Regions from separate parts of the Homo sapiens genome. Here region 1 is linked to region 2. Evidence: fine-mapped expression QTL. A gene starts in region 2. The other region holds a variant in brackets. All regions are shown on one strand. Distances are between the middles of the regions. Region 1 overlaps JHY (junctional cadherin complex regulator). Region 2 holds the start of BSX (brain specific homeobox).

What was found. PIP is the estimated chance that this variant, and not a neighbour inherited with it, causes the effect.
Region 1: its variant is fine-mapped to the expression of BSX in testis (GTEx, PIP 0.96).

The regions. Positions count from the first base shown.
Region 1 is chr11:122,936,495-122,941,870 of GRCh38, reverse strand. The region is part of intron 5 of JHY (junctional cadherin complex regulator); the gene reads right to left. Among named protein-coding and RNA genes, the nearest start is that of BSX, 43 kb to the left of the region's middle. The variant G/C (reference allele first, on the strand shown) is at 2,521.
Region 2 is chr11:122,979,399-122,984,774 of GRCh38, reverse strand. It overlaps BSX (brain specific homeobox), which reads left to right and starts at 2,941. Exons shown (of 3, transcript NM_001098169.2): 1 at 2,941-3,365; 2 at 5,318-5,376. The coding sequence starts at 3,104. RefSeq lists an enhancer at 3,133-3,635.

The sequences.
Region 1 (5,376 bases), 43 kb after region 2:
ATAAACTAAAACAAACAACAAAAAGGGAATTTCTATTTCTTGTCATGGTCCTTACCAAACAGGAGGCACACACAGTGACCTGCAGTCACACATCCTACAAGCAGCTGGTTACCATGTAATGTTTTACATATTCAAAAAATAAAATAAAATTTAAAATCAATGAGAAGAAAAGAAAATCCTAACACTGAATACAAAGCAAAACAAATGAATTTAACTGTATGTTAAACTGATTACCTCTACCAAGAGAAAAGAATTAATTTATGAAGTAATTTTGAGTCAATGTAGTTTGGTTGTACACCCTTAGAAGAATATAGAGGGAGGAAAAAGAATGGCAAAGAAATCATGAGCTTTACTTAGACTGACTGTTTGGTAGTGGTACTGGCATTGTAATTATAAAACTATTTGTACATATACTGTAGGGAAGGGTAAATGTGTAAACATATTGATGTTTTGGTAAACTAAGGTTTTCACTGTTGGAAAAAGGAGATACAAATATGGAAAAGGAGAAGCATGAGGAAGAACCCAGAGCTGTTGGATTTGAGGTATCTGTGTGACCCCACTAGTATACAGAAATATGTATTGGCATAGGCATAATTATAGAAAGAGGTTCAGGTACAGGTATTTTCTAGCTCTAACTGCTGAGATCTTGAGTCTAGAAGCAATAACATTTCAGTAGCAATGAGAACACATAGCTCTCAAATCTTGGTTTCTAAATTCCATTCCCTACTAAAAAGAATTAGGGTTTTTTGGAGAAACTGATGCTTCCACATGAGTTCAGGGGAAGTCCAAAGGTAAACCTAGAACATATTACTATGCCAGAAAACAAAGAAGTGCTCGAAGACAAAAGATGTTACATCAAAAGGACCCAGGAACTGGAGTGAAGGGGCTCCCACTGCTCAAATCCAAGACAGTGAGAACATATACAGTATAATGATGGTAATAGACTTTAACATGTTTATAGGAAAAGATTTATGAGTCCATAATGATACTAGAGAGAGAGGGAGAGAGAGAGAGAGAGATAAAGAAGGAAGGAAGGAAGGAAGGAAGGAGAAAAAGGAAGAGGAAAAGGTCTTATTTCAACAGCCATGTAATAAATGTATAGGTATTGATAGAATTACAAAATCACCATTTTGCAACCCCAGTGTAATGGATGATTTAGGTAAGCACTGTCAGTGGATGCTAAAACCACTGTACAAAAAGCTGTTGAAAACTAGGATAATTACACTGTCTCGAATATTAATAATTACTTATAAAGGGAAAATGTTCCTTTACAATGGGGAGATCTGGTAGTCGCTACCTTAATCAAAAGGTTTAACTTAGCATCACCAATAATATGATAGCCTGATAGTATGTATCCCCTGGTATAATGTAATAAAAAGTACACCAAATCACCCAAGTAGTATTCTTGCCTGAAATGGTCAACCTAAATATAACTATCCAAAAACAATAAATTTTTTCTAAAAAGGCAATGTTATAGAAAACAATGAAAAGTGAGCATTGGATAATTTGTTCTAGATTTTTTTTTCTTTTTTTGAGACAGAACCTCACTCTGTTGCCCAGGCTGGAGTGCAGTGGCAGGATCTCAGCTCACTGCAACCTCTGCCTCCCAGGCTGAAGAGATTCTCCTGCCTCAGCCTCCCGAGTAGCTGGGACTACAGGAGCCTGCCACCACACCCAGCAAATTTTTGTATTTTTAGTAGAGTGGGAGTTTCACCATGTTGGCCAGGCTGGTCTCGAACTCCTGACCTCAAGTGATCCACCGCCTTGGCCTCCCAAAGTGCTGGGATTACAGGTGTGAGCCACCATGCCCAGTCTGTTCTAGATTTTTTTTTTTTTAATTAAAGGGACAAAAAGTAAATGAAATGTATGAACACTGAATACTGGATCAGGAATTTAAAAAAAAAAAAGCTGTAAAAGGCTTTTTGGAGACAAGTAATACAATTTAAAAATGTACTGATACTACATGATATTGTGTACAATAACGTTAATATTCTTAGCTGTGATAATGGTGTGATTGTTGTATAAGACAATGTCCTTATTCTTAGGGGCTGAATGTTGAAATATTTAGAGATAAAATATTGTGATTCTGAACTTGCTTTCAAATGATTCAGTAAATAGATAGAAAATGTTGCAAAATTTTAGCACTGATGAATCTAGATGAAGGACTACAGGTGTTTATTGTAGATATTTTCCCCCAAGTTTTTACTAGGTGTGAACAATTTCAAAATGAAAAGGTGGTAGAAAAAACGTGGCAGAATAAGCATGCAATTTAACTCTCAAATGCAAATCAAAATTATATATAAAGAGATTTTTAAAAGACATCAACCCACGAAGATAAAGAGAACAAAATGGGGGGAAAAGAGCAAATATTTCGGAAGCAGAGAACAGATGGTTGAATGGTAACTATCTTAGCAGACTCAAAAAAGTGGAATCTAAGTTAGCAGCAGGGAAAGCAGAGAAGCCACAGTTTACACCATAGAATCCTGTAAGGCTCATGAGCTGTAAGTGGGAGTGGCGGTG[G/C]TGAAAGTCTATGTGAGAGTTACTTAAAAAAGATTTGGTTGAAAGTCTGTTTAAGAAGCAGTCAGGGTTGGGTGCGGTGGCTCACGCCTGTAATCCCAGCACTTTGGGAGGCCGAGGTGGGTGGATCACGGGGTCAGGAGATCGAGACCATCCTGGCCAACATGGTGAAACCCTGTCTCTACCAAAAATCCAAAAACTAGCCAGGCGTGGTGATGGGCGTCTGTAGTCCCAGCTGCTCAGGAGGCTGAGGCAGGAGAATCGCTTGAACCCGGTAGGCAGAGGTTGCAGTGAGCTGAGATCGTGCCACTGCACTCCAGCCTGGCAACAGAGTGAGACTCCGTCTCCGGAAAAAAAAAAAAAAAAAGAAGAAGCAGGCGGATCTCCAGATCATCTTCTCCATTTTGTGCACCTAGGCAACTGTCCCTTCCCTCTCTCCGCAGCTCGCTGGAGGTTTTCATTCTGAAGAAGCCAACAAGTCTTCTGCCTGTGAAGCACCAAGCACAGATAATAAATCTGACCACCAAGAGAAAAGACCTAAAACCTACAGGAAGGGCTTCCTATCACATGGCACCCAAAGATCATTCTATAGGCACTCAAAGTCAACAAGCACTGTCACTCAGAGCTTCCAATAAGCTTTCTAGTCCCTCATACTTGATCATGAGAAGATGATCAAGAATTGCTAGACATCTGACACAAGCCCTAAGGTGGAAGGCAGCAAAATAGGAGAAGAGAAACAAACATCACTGACAAAGACCTAGAGGAAAGAGAAGCAAAGCAGGGAATTAAAAACACTTAAAAATTCAGTCACAAGGGCCCTTACACCCTATTTTGCCTTGTTGAAAATCTAAGAAGACGTTGAGAAAAAAGGATGTTGTATCCATGAACAAAAACATGAGGCTATAAAACGAGGAGCATTCAGAAACCAATAACAGAAACAACAACAAAAAAATCCTGTCGGAAATTAACAAACATGATAGCAGTAGAAAGGCTGGAAGCTAGGACTGAGAAACCCTCCCAGACAGTAGAACAAAATTAGAAAGAAATGGAGAAAGAAAGAGAAAACAAAATCATAATAACGGTCCTGGAAAAACGCATCTGAATCACAGGAGTTTCTAGAAAGAGCAAACAGAAAATGGTTGAAAGGAACTACCCATAAAGATGACTCAAGAAATTTTCCCAGAACTGAAGGTCATATGTTTTCAGGTTTAAAGGCCCCAGCTCAATCTATGAAAACAGACCTATACAAAGGCGCAATATTATGAAATTTCACTTCAGTAGAGAAAAAGAAAAGATCCTAAAGCTTCCAGAAAACAAAAAACAAAAAACAACAACAAAAAAAACAGATTATATACAAAGGATCAGGAATAAGGTGGCTTCAGATTTCTCAACAGCAACACTGGATGCAAGAAGGCAATTCTGAGGGACAATGATTTTCCATCTAGAATTCTACAATCCTCTGCCAAGCTACCAATCAGGGGCGAGGGCAGAAGAAAGATAATTTCAGCAAGATCTCAAAACATTTACCTCTCAAGCAATGGAGGATGTTCTCTATCAAAATTAGAGACGAAACTAAGAAAGAGAACGGGGATGGAAAAAACGGGAAGGGTGACGAAGGAGAAGAGTGAAGAGGGTCTCCATGAGGGCATGGAGATTCTTAAGGATAATATGAGCACAACAACAGCGGAACGCAGTCAGAAAACAGGTGTGGCACAGGACACTGGCACGCTGAGAACTGCCCATCACCCTGTCCCCTGTCCTTGTACCACATTTTCAATCTGAAAGAAATGCCGGAAGGGGTGCTCAAACAAAATAAGGAAAATGTGAGATACTGAAAAAGAGAATCCTATCAGAAGAAAGGCAAAGGGAATCCTCAGCCAGGACAGCTGTGAAGCAAGTCTCGAAAGAGAAAGAAAGTAAAGGTGTCTACAAAGTCTGGCTCCAAGAAAGAGAGAAGAATTGAGAAATTGCCCGATGGGGTTGTCCTTATGGAAACTTATACTAAAAGGCTACTCATAAGCGTAGGATCAATTAGCTATATGTACAGAGAGAATTAAGCAAAAGAAGCCCAGGAGGTTGAGGCTGCCAAAAAAATTAAAAAAAAAAAAAAAGAAATGAAAAGAGGGACATGATTATAGATATAATAAAGGTGGAATAATATTAAAGTTATTTAAATACTACAAAAAGCTTTATGACAGTACATTTTAAGACAGCATAAAAGGAAAATTTTTCCTAGAAAAATATAATGTATTAAACTGACTAAAATGAAAATGAAAAGACTGCAAAGTCTTATAATGATTATAGTAAATGCATCAGGAGTTTAAAATCTGCTCACAAACAACAACAAAAAGCCAAACAAAACCCACCAATGGCCCAATAGTTTTAGAGGAAAATTCTATCAAACCTTCAAGTAACAGGTAAGGCCAATTGTATATAAAGTGTCCCAGAGGATGCAAAAAGAGGAAATAGTCCTCAACTCATTTTATAAGGCTGGTATTTTCTTGATAATCCACCCAGTCAAGGCCAGTGGCAGATAGGAAAATTATAAGCCAATTTCACTTCATGTATATGAAAATGTTAAATCTTAAACAAAGTGTTAACACATCAAATCAAGCAACTTATTAAAAATGCAGTATGACAAATTGGGTTAACCCTAGGAATAAAAGGGTTATCAGAAAAATCAGTGCATCATCAGAAAAATCTGTTAACATATTTCATCACACTAAAGGATTAATGGAGAAATGTTTCAATTAATGCAGAAAAAGTATTTGATAAAATCAAATACTCGTTTATGATAGAAGTTATTTGCAAAGAGGAATAGGAGGAAATTTCCCATCTATCATCTATCTATCTACCAAA
Region 2 (5,376 bases):
TTCCCGGCGTCCCCAGCCTCGCTGTCTCCCCTAGGCTTTGGGACACAGCTTTAAGGGACTGAGCGGCCCGGACGGGATCTGAAACCTTTGGAGGACCAGCCACGTCCGCACAGCCCGCCCATGCGCGCTGGCACCAGGACCCGCAGGCTGCCAGCGGCGAGTCCCCGCCGCGGTTCCTCAGGGCACCCCCGGAGAAGGGGGCGGCCCTGAGGAATCTCCTGCACTCCGGATGCCCTATTTTCCCCGCCCTTAGCGCCCCAGGGCCCTGCTCGGGTCCTGGCCGCGCGTGGTGTTCTTTTCAGCCGCGGAGCTTTGTTTCCCAGTGTCGCTGAAAGGAAAGAGAAAGAAAACGCCTTCGGTCCTGGAGGTCCTGCCCCTTCCTGAAGCGATGCCATTTCCTCCCTCCATCTCTCTTTTCTTAGATTCCTCCTGGGGCCCCGGCAGAGGCGGGGCGGCTGCGCCCCGAGTCCCTCTCCGGCGGCAGCGCGGGAGCGGGGCTGGAAAAGAGGGCGCCGGGAGCCGCCCCGCCCCTCATCGCTCCTGGCTTCTCCGCCTGAGAGCAGGGCCTGGGGAGATTGCCTTAGCTTTGGGGGAAAGCAGGACGCTGAGTCCAGGGCTCACGAAACAAGGGAAAGATAAGGACGGAGGAGGCGGTCTACATTGCCCCCCACTCCCTTCCCGATCCCGCAAACACTCTGAGAGGTGTGTAAGTTCTGACGGGGTGGTTGCAGTGCCTTGGCTCAAAGGTAACTGTCACTCGAAGATGTTTTTACTGCCCCTGCTCTCAAAGGGACATTCAATAATCACTTCTGCTTCTGCGACAGAAGTTGGTCCCCTCCCCAGAATGAAGCCGAAATCCCGCCCCCAAGGCTGGGTGCAAATCTGCGCTCTGTGTGAGGCTGGAGTGTAGGGCGCCCTCAGGCACAGGCCACACTCTGGTTGTACACCCGTCCAGCCCTCGATAGCCACTCGGCCTATAGGGTGGAGAGACAGAACGGCTTGATTTCTACTCTGCTGATGCTGTAAGCTCACAATGGAAGCGGGGGTGTACGTGGACGTCTGTGAAGTGTGGACCGACACCCCTGGCCCCTCCTCACCAGTCTCCTCCGTCTGGTGACTGAGGACGATGGGCCAGGGCTTAGCGCTAGGAAAGGACTTTTGGAAAGTCTATTGTCTTGCTCTCCACGGCCACCTGCTTTCAGGTCTTCTTTTCTTTTCTTTTCTTTTCTTTTCTTTTCTTTTCTTTTCTTTCTTTCTTTCCTTTCTTTCTTTTTCTTTTATACACATATTTTATTTCCTTCCTTCCTTCCTCTCTCTCTCCCTTCGTTCCTTCTTCCCTTCCCTTCTCCTTTCTTTCTTTCTTTTTCTTTTTCTTTCTTTCTTTCTGAGATGGGGCCTCACTATATTGCCCAGGGTGGTTTTGAACTTCTGGGCTCAAGCAATCCTCCCGCCTCGGCCTCCCAAAGTGCTAGGATTACAGACGCGAACCACCACGCTGGGCCTCTTCAGTTCTTACTACTATTAGAATTTTTTAAAAATCACGTTTTGGACTTCAGATCAAAGCATTCTGATTTCATTTAGATGCCTACTTGCCAAGATCTTATTTTAAAGTCTCCCCCACATCCCTTCCTCCTTCCTCTCAAGCTCTTCATCTACTTACCATTTACCAGTTCATCCTCATGGAATAGAATGCTCCCACTTCCTGGTGCACTGTAGTTTGGGGCCTAATTGATTCTGGTAATTAATTTGTTCTACCTGCTAGATCAGATGGAAATCCTACCCATGCGCCCCAGGATTAGCACTTGGCTTTCTAACACCTCCTCTAATTATCTAATAGCATGGGTTGTGAGGACTCAGTCTCTATTAAAACACTTTTACTATTAGCAGTAGTGATTGGAATTGTGATGACGACTAGATTTCAACAAATTAGAGCTTAAAAATGGGGAGATGGGAGAGAAGTGGCTTCTTCTAATTTCCCTGAGTTTAACATCAATAATTAGAGCAATTTTCAGAGATGTGAGCTGAAATTACCCCTGCTGTGTTGTAGATGATCACCCTAATTTTAGCAAATTGACTCCAGGGAAATAAATGTGACAGATTAGAAAAAGACAAACAGAAAAAAACAAAAGATTGGGAGGGACGGAAATGAAAGGAAACAGGCTGGGAAAAGGAGTGGGAAACAAAAACCTAGTACAATTAATTCGGGGGGCTAGGGTTGAAAGAGTAACAGCAGAAATAGCAAGCCGCGTGAGTGAAATGAGGAGAAAGCAAAGATTTGAGGCGACATGGAGGATGGCACTAAGAGGTGACTCTGGACATATTTACACAGACCAAATAACTTGACTAATGTAGACATAACCCTCCTCCTGCCCACTGCCTATAACTGAGGTAAAGACTGTTGTGATGACCATCATCATTTTCTTTCTTTACCTTAATAATCCAGTCTTCCCTCAGCCATAAACTTAAGTAGAATCTAGCAATCTGAAGTATCAGATGCCCTTTCTCCTCACTTCCTCCCTTCTTTTTTTGCCACCAAAATTATGGAAACTCTTAAAACCCAGGCCTAAATGCCTGAATAAGTGCTTTATCCATTATTGCTTTGGGGCCCTTTTAGTGCCTTCTCCTCTGTAAAGAGGAGTTTGCCGGACAACAGAGACTTTTTCCTTTTGGCTTTCTTTTAAAAACGACTGGGAACAAAGCAGCCCCTGCAGTGACGGGGCAGAAATTGAGGTCGAGAAACCTGGTAGGAACAAGAACCCTGCGGGCTCTGTTGTTCCCAGGCTCGGCCGGTGGTGTTCAGCACCGCGGACAGCTCCCCGCCCCGCCCCGAGCCTCCCGCACCCTCCCCTCTGCCTCTGGCAGCCTCGTCATTGGCTCTCCCGGCCCCCCTCTCCAAGCTGCCAATTCTCCAACACAGAGACCCAACCTACCCAGGAGCTTGTCTTCTTGCCTCTCCAGCGCCCGGGGTAGCCCAGGCCCGGGAGAGAGCAGCGGAGATTCGAGCCTCGGAGGGTGGTTGCCGGCTTTCGAGCAGGCTTGGAGACTCTGCCTGCGTCCTCCACTTCGTCCCGGCCCTTGTCCTGTGGCAGGTGCTCCGCTCAAGATGAATCTCAACTTCACCTCTCCTCTACACCCGGCGTCTTCTCAGAGGCCCACATCCTTCTTCATCGAGGACATCCTGCTGCACAAGCCCAAGCCGCTGAGAGAGGTGGCCCCAGACCATTTCGCCAGCTCTCTGGCCTCTCGGGTGCCTCTGCTAGACTATGGCTACCCCCTCATGCCCACACCCACCCTCTTGGCTCCTCACGCCCATCACCCTCTGCATAAGGGAGACCACCATCATCCTTATTTCCTCACCACCTCGGGTAAGTAACAGGAACCTCAAGGTATGGGCAGTGAGAGAGCAGGGCTTCTAGCACAGACCCTAAGCCTGTGATGGAGTCAAGGAAAGGCCAGACTGGCTCGGCCTGGCTTGGTGGCCTCTTTCCCTAAGTGACAGTGGAAGGCTGAGGATATTGCTGAGGCCATGCAGAGCTCCCTAGAGGCATGCCAACCCACGGGGATAATTCGTGATTCCTCCGCACTCTTCATAGCGGAGGATAGGTGCCTGGTCAAGAGGCAGCGTATAGGGTTTGACGATACTCTTGGTAGGCAGTGCTCAGTGTCCCTGCTCGTGATCTTCCTGGCCACTTTGGTCCATCTCTCAATCCTGATTCTCCGCCTCTGCCCACTCAGAGGGAGACCCTTGACCATCCCACCCCATGGACACAACTTTTTCTGCACAGAAACTCAAAACACTCTGTCCAGGCCAGATCTCTTTTTTCCAGGCACTGAGCATTTGCAGATACCGCTGGGGGCATAGAAGTGAATGAAGGTTTGGGCTAGCCTGAATAAGACAGAAAGGGTGAGAAAAAAGGGGGGTAGGGGGAGATGCAGCTCTTTAACCCTCCGCATCCTCAACATCTAACATTTAACTCACAATCTTAGTCTGGGCTACCCTCCTCTGCCCCAGCTGCCAGCATTGCTGGAGCCGGGTGCTAAAGTATTTTGATTTCTCTGGTCTGACAAAAAGCAAGGGCTAGCAAAGTCTGTTTGGGACAGGAGGATGTGGGGAAATACTCCGATTTTTTTCTGTCTCCCTCTGAAAGGCCACATCCATGGTTTTTTCTCTGGCGTTTTCAATCTAGCCAGAATAGAATAATTCGTTGAGTCCAGACTCATAGCTCAGAGGCGGCAACAACCATGGTCGGTGGAGGGGCTGGGGGCAAGACAGGAGGCAGTTTGTGCGCGCTGGAATCCAGAACAAAGCTAAAAGTGTTTGTAAATCCAGGTCCGCATCTCTGCACTGGCTTCACCACCCGCCGGTGACAATCTATTCTCAGCTGCTCCGGTGGTCCTCCCATACAGCAGTGGCCAAAGCCCTAAGTACCCGCACTGGTTGTTGTTATGTTTGTTTATTTTCTCTGGGATTGGCCGATGTTGCTTGTGGCAGCTTCTCTCTGCTTGGTGCGTCTCAGACAGAGTCAAGCCTGCGAGGGTCAGGAAAGACAAGTCTCCCCGGACCCGGCCATGGAAAAACCCCTCAAACCCTTCTGCTTCGCTGGGCTTGGAGTGAGAGGGAAAGAATGAGAAAAAGAATGAGGACTATATTAGGTAGCTGGGTCCCTAGCGCGACCCCGAAACGGACGAGGAGACGTGAGAGGCGAGAAATGCTCCTCTGTTTCGGCTCCGGGGCTTCTCCGGATAAGGCAGTTTTGCTCTCCCTTTGGCTGCAGGGGGATAGGGGTGGCTTGGGAAACAGAAAGGTATTTTTCAGTAAGGTTTGGAGGCAAGATTATATCCATGCATCTACCAGCCCCAGAACAGCAATGAGTGTCATCAGGGGTCTAGGAGGATAGGTGGGGGCTGGGGACAGGACTGCTCCTGGGCCATTTGACGTTTGCAAAAAACTTGGCCAGGCGCAACTGAAGACTCCGCGCTGGCCGACCCTACGGAAGTCTCTCCAAGAAGACATTTTTAAACAGCCTCCGGATCTATTTTCCGATTTTCTTTTCTGTTTTATTTACTGTTTGTTGTTTGTATTTCTAGATGACTTTCCAGATAAAGATCTCCAAGCGCTATTCTTGCGGCTTTTTTTTTTTTTCTTCCTCTGCCCTGGATTCCTGAGAGAAAGGCTTGAGGGGCTTTGGGGCGAGCAGACTGACGGAGGCGAGGGGCGGAGGAAGGCACTGGGGGCTAGGGGAGGGGAGGGGAGCGGAGCGGAGATTGCTCTCCGGCGACCCACGCTCTGCCCACTTGGTTGCTCTTCTCTCTGCAGGGATGCCAGTCCCAGCGCTGTTCCCGCACCCGCAGCACGCGGAGCTGCCGGGGAAGCAC